2 separate regions of the Homo sapiens genome follow, and region 1 is linked to region 2. Evidence: fine-mapped expression QTL. Tissue or cell type: whole blood. Region 2 holds a variant in brackets; the other region holds the start of a gene. All regions are shown on one strand. Distances are between the middles of the regions.

Region 1 (2,755 bases), 29 kb before region 2:
CTCTGAATGCATATTATGAAACGGAGTTCAATGGGCATAAGAACTACTTTGGCAGAGCAAGGTTTCCAGCACCCAACTACTGGGGACGAATTGGGGATTCTCTCCGTTTCCCAAGAGGGCCAAGGAATTGAATTGGGAAGCATTTCTGACGCTGTTATAACCATAACCAGACAAGTCTCCAGCAAAGTTGCTGCAGCCTGTAAAGACAGCCAAGTGCGGGTGTGGACTGCAGCGGGATGATGATCACCTCCTGACCCTTTTTCTTAGGGTCTGACCCACAGCCCCCACCTACAAATATGCCAGACGCGTCGCCGGCTCCTTGCACCCGACTGAGGGGGTTCTGATTTCCTGGAGCAGCAGCGGGGCGTGTGCAGGACGGGGAGGGAGCAGGCAGGGGCGGCGCGGCGCAGGCCCGCTCGGGCAGCAGGGGGCGTGCGGGCCACCCCGCCGAAGGCCAGGCGAGGCTCTGGGCACCCCAAACCCAACCACCTGCGGCAGCGACTTTCCCGGCTCACCTGCGGGGTCCAATTTCAGCCCGTTGGAGTTGCTGGTATTGGCCACCAGGGTGTTGGTCTCCTCCTGGTCGGGACCCTGCTCGCCCGGGGCCACGTTGATGTCGCTGCTCCCGGGGCGGGTGCTCTTAACGCGAGGCCCCTTGGGGAGGCCGTGGCCGTGGCCGTGACCCCCGTGCGAGTGGCCGTGGCCGGAGTCCTGGCTGAAGCCGCTGTGATGGTGGAAGAGGCAGAGCCCCAGCACGTTGACCAGCAGCCCGGCCACGCCGACCCCAAGGACCACCAGCGGCTGCTGCATCTCGTGCGGCTCGATGAAGCGCTCGATGGCCTCCAGCAGGATGGCGAAACAGAGGCCAGTCAGGAAGATGGCGTTCACCAGAGCCCCCATTACCTCGGCTCGGATCCAGCCGAACGTGTTCTTCTGGGTGGCGTGGGTCCGCCGGGCGAAGCGCTCGGCCACCAGCGCCACCACCAGCGCCAGCACGTCCGACAGCATGTGGAAGGAGTCGGAGAGCATCGCCAGCGACGAGGTCACCCGGCTCACCACCACCTCCAGCACCATGAACATGAAGGTCAGCGCCAGCATGCACAGCAGCCGGCCCCGGTTCCGACCCCAACACCCCATGGCTGCGGCTGCGGGGCCCGCCGAGCCCGGCCCGGAGACTGGTGCAGCGGCGGCGTTGGCGGGACGCGGAGGGTCGGCGACCGCGACACGGAGGAGCGCCCGAGTCGGGCCGTTCGGGAAACCGCTGAGGGGCCCCCGCGGCCGCACGGGGACAAGCCCGGGTCAAGCCGCCGAGCCCCGCGCCTGTGGGCGTTCTCCGCCAGCCGGCGGCGCCGCGCCGCGCAGCTCCTCAGGCGTCCGTCCTCAGAGCCGGCGCCGAGGCCCGGCTCAGCCTCAGCAGCCCCCACACCCAGGCGGCGGCGGTGGCGGGGAGCTGGGCTCCCGGAGCCGGGGTACCAAGAGCCGCAGCCGGAGCAGGAGCAGGAGGGCGGCGGGCGAGGGCGGCAGGAGAGGGCGACGGGCAGCTTCGCGCCGAGAAAGCTCCGAGCATCTGAGGGCTCTGCTTGCTGGTCTCCTCTGCGGCGGCTGGACTGAGGAGCGGATGGCTGAGGAGCTAGAGAGGCGGCGGCCACGGCAGCTGCACTCGGCCCGGTCTCGGGCGCCTTCTTCGCCCCCCCGCCTTTGCAGACGGTTTACAAAAAAACTTTGCTTTGCACTCGGAACCCCCGTTTTCACACGGACCCGAGCGTGACAAGGCCTTGCCGCCCCGCCCACCAGGCCCGGCACGCTTCCCCATTGGTCAGGACCCCCTCACGACAGCCTCGGCGTCCCGCCCAGCCACGCTCACTATTGGATGGAGCCTCGGAGGGGCGGGAAGGGGGCGGGGTCGCGGCTCCAACAGATAGGGGCGGGGCCTTTTCCTCCCGGAGCCGGGCGTGGGCCGGGGGGCCGTGGCCGGGTGCAGCGGCGGGCGAATTGGGGGCGCGGGCCGCGTGCAGCGGGAGGGGGAGGGGCTGGCCGGGTCCCCTCGGGTGTGGCGGAGTCCTGGCCTGCGGACCATCGCAACTCCCAGCACACCTGCGGGGGCCGGGCTGCAAAGTCTGCAAACAGACTTTGATCCTCCGAGCCCAGTCCACGTGGGGGCGGGCCGCGCGGCGGCTGTGTGACAGCTCGGCGGCGGGGGAGGGGCCGGAGGGGAGCCCCTGAGCGCGGGGCCCTCGAGTACTCGGTCCTGTCGGAGGAGGCCGACAGACGCATAAACAAGTGCGACTGTAACTTGGGACTCTGCTGGACGCCGAGCTGAGGAGTTAGTCCTCCCGAAGGTCTGCTAGGGGCGTGGACCGAATCTTTGTACATGTTTTGGGAAAGCCAGTTTCTCCTATCACCATCAACCCCTGGAGACCTTGTGTGAACTCAGGTGTCTGTCACTGATTATCTAAGGACAGTTCAGGGTACAGACTTCAGGCAGGAGAAACCTGGGCTCTGCTCCTTGCCTTGTCAATAGCCAGCTGTGTGGCTTTGAGCAAGTCACCTAATCTCTCTAGACCTGTTTCCCCATCTATAAAGGACTGGACAAATGCAACTCTGAAGATCCCCGTCTGACTCCAAAATTCTAAGGCTCTATGATTTAACATTTATTTATAGACTACACACGGTGGAATCTTGTGCTGGTTGCTATGGGGAGGTGGAGGGGCAGTAAGAATACAAAGGAACGAGTTTCTGTCCAGGTGGAGGTAAA
Region 2 (2,755 bases):
CCTTATTGGTTGAGATCTTGCATTTGCTCCTCCCTTTGGTTCTTTGACACCACAATCGTAGCTCCCGCAACTCTCTGGTAAATCCCTTTCTGTCTCCTTTACTGGGTCCCCCCACACCTTCTAGTTTCTAAATGTGATTTTTAAATAAAAGTTTCTAAACGAAGTTACCTCTGAACATCTCTCCACTTTCTCTCAGGGAGATCTCAGCCACTCCCATGGCTTCCTTCTTTATTTAAAGGTCTGTTCGCCAAATGTTCACATTTCCTTACAACATCTCCAAGTGATGGTCCAGCTTTAATACTTCCAGTAAACTCACTGATAATGCAAATACATTCCAAATTGATATAGTTTCTCTTTAGAGTCAGCGGCTACTCCTGATTTCCCAACTTCAGAAGTAGTTGCTTAAAATGTATGCAAAAGAGCCAGAGGGTGTCTTGCGGAACCCAAGAACAGGAAGTGCATCTAGAAATCTGACCGCCTACGGGCACCCGGGCAGCTGCTCCTAAGCTCTCACTCAGAAGCCATCTCTGCATGGGCTTCCTTCTTCTCCGTTTTGCAGCCTGGCATCTTCATGTGGAAGCATGAGGCCAGCAACAGGTCACCAGCTGGCCCAATCACATCTTCAGCCTCCGAGAGAGATTGAGAGAGACAGAGAGAGAGAGAGAGAGAGAGAGAGAGATCTTTCTTTGCTTTAGTCCCAAGCTGAGGAAGAGTTCCGATTGACCCATCTTGGGTCCGGCGTCCCTAGACAAAGGCTGTGCATTTACACAGTGACCTCCACAACAGCCGTGGAGAGATGAGGGAGCAATGGATGCTTCCCAGGAGGGAAGGGTCCATTCCCAGAAAGGGAGGGAGGGCCAGGCTGCAAAAACAATGGGGACCCAGTACGAACAGGACAGAGGACCTTCCCTGTGAGTGAGGAGACAGCTCTCAGAGAAAGGAGTTATTAATGGTACAGGCAGAAGTTCCATGATTTCACCCAGGTCAGAGACCTTGGAGCCATTTTTGACTCCCTCTGTCAGACTCCCTCTGTCACTGTCCACCCACTTCCCTGATGTCCAATAAGACACTAACTCCTAGTACTTCTTTCTT[T/G]CTTGCTTGCTTTTTTTTTTTTTTTCTGAGACAGAAACAGTTTCACTTTTGCTGCCCAGGCTGGAATGCAATGGCACCATCTTGGCTTACTGCAACCTCTGCCTCCCAGGTTCGATTCTCCTGCCTTAGCCTCCCGAGTAGCTGGGATTACAGGCGCATGCCACCAGGCTCAGCTAATTTTTGTATTTTTAGTAGAGAGGGGGTTTCGCCATGTTGGCTAGGCTGGTCTTGAACTCCTGACCTCAGGTGATCCTCCTGCCTCAGCCTCCCAAAGTGCTGGGATTACAGGCATGAGCTACAGTGCCCGACCTACTTCTTCTTTCAAAATACTTTATTGTCCTCCCTTTCTTTGGTTTCTCATTCCAGTTCCTTAGTTTCAGTCCTCATTGCCTCTCCCCTGGGTTCTCTAATCACCCCACTGGTTTGCCAGCCTTTTTTCTACTTTCATCCAATCTATGGTCAGACTAATCTTCCTAAAACACCACCAGGAAGAACTTTCTTCCCAGATCTAAAAACCTTCCAATGTCACCTGGCTGCCTGTAGAACAAAGTCCAAACACTTTGGCTGGTTATTCAGGAATGTCTTCAACTGTCACTGGCATTGTTACTTAGGTTCTCCATATCTGTGGCCTGCGTGGCCTTTCCTAATGGGAGTTCCCCAGCCACATGCCCAGGGTATGATTTTACCCACCCCCTGCCTTAGGAGTGGGGCTCAAATGGCTTAAGCCCACCAACATAGCCCCATCACCCTGGCCCTAGCTACTGGCTGAAGAAAAGACACTGAGCTAGATCCAAGCCAGCCAGCATGTTCTCCAGGCCACAGTCATTGGCTCGGGGGACCACTTGTGAGCCCTGCTGACCCACCAGAGCAAACCTCAGGACTTGTGCTGGTGAGGCTGGGCATAGAGGCTCTTTCTTCTCCTGGACATGAGTGGAGAAGCTTACAGTCCAAGGAGCTGCTGCCAACCATCGTGGTTCTCAAGAATAGCTGCAAACAGGGCAATTGGCCTAAAAACAATTTTCTGAAAGCCAATTCATTGAAAGCCAATTTCTGAATCAATTTGAAAATATAAGCATATTCAGGCTGGGTGCAGTGGCTCACGCATGTAATCCCAGCACTTTGGAAGGCCGAGGCGGGTGGATCACTTGAGGTCACGAGTTCGAGAGCAGCCTGGCCAACATGGTGAAACCTCTTCTCTACCAAAAATACAAAAAAAATTAGCCAGGTGTGGTGGTGGGTGCCTGTAATCCCAGCTACTTGGGAGGCTGAGGCAGGAGAATCACTAGAACCCAGGAGGTGGAGGTTGCAGTGAGCCGAGTTAGTACCACTACACTCCAGCCTGGGTAACAGAGCAAGACTCCATCTCAAAAAAAAAAAAAAAAAAAAAATATATATATATATATATATATATATGTTTATTGACTGTTTTAAAAAAGCATATTCCTTAAATCATGTTTTTGGCAAATTTGTCATTTGGCACATTGGCTTCAAGCCAGGGAGGTGGAGTCAGGACGAAGCCTTCGGAAGAAGAGAGGAAAGACACAAATGCAAGGTCCTTGGTGTGGCTTTGAACTCTGGATTGGCCTTGACTGAAGCCCGCCACACCTCCTGACTTTTCCAAAACATGAGTCAGTCCATTCCTGTTAGAGTTTGACCCAGGTTT

What was found. PIP is the estimated chance that this variant, and not a neighbour inherited with it, causes the effect.
Region 1: SLC30A1 starts here. The variant in region 2 is fine-mapped to the expression of SLC30A1 in whole blood (INTERVAL, PIP above 0.99).

What each region holds. Positions count from the first base shown.
Region 1 is chr1:211,577,476-211,580,230 of GRCh38, forward strand. SLC30A1 (solute carrier family 30 member 1) reads right to left here and starts at 1,686. Exons shown (of 2, transcript NM_021194.3): 1 at 516-1,686. The coding sequence starts at 1,137. RefSeq lists silencers at 316-665, 1,166-1,475, 1,716-2,275 and enhancers at 776-885, 858-1,359, 1,360-1,859.
Region 2 is chr1:211,606,607-211,609,361 of GRCh38, forward strand. LOC105372903 (a long non-coding RNA gene) reads right to left here. Exons shown (of 2, transcript XR_001738450.2): 2 at 1-627. Among named protein-coding and RNA genes, the nearest start is that of SLC30A1, 29 kb to the left of the region's middle. The variant T/G (reference allele first, on the strand shown) is at 1,093.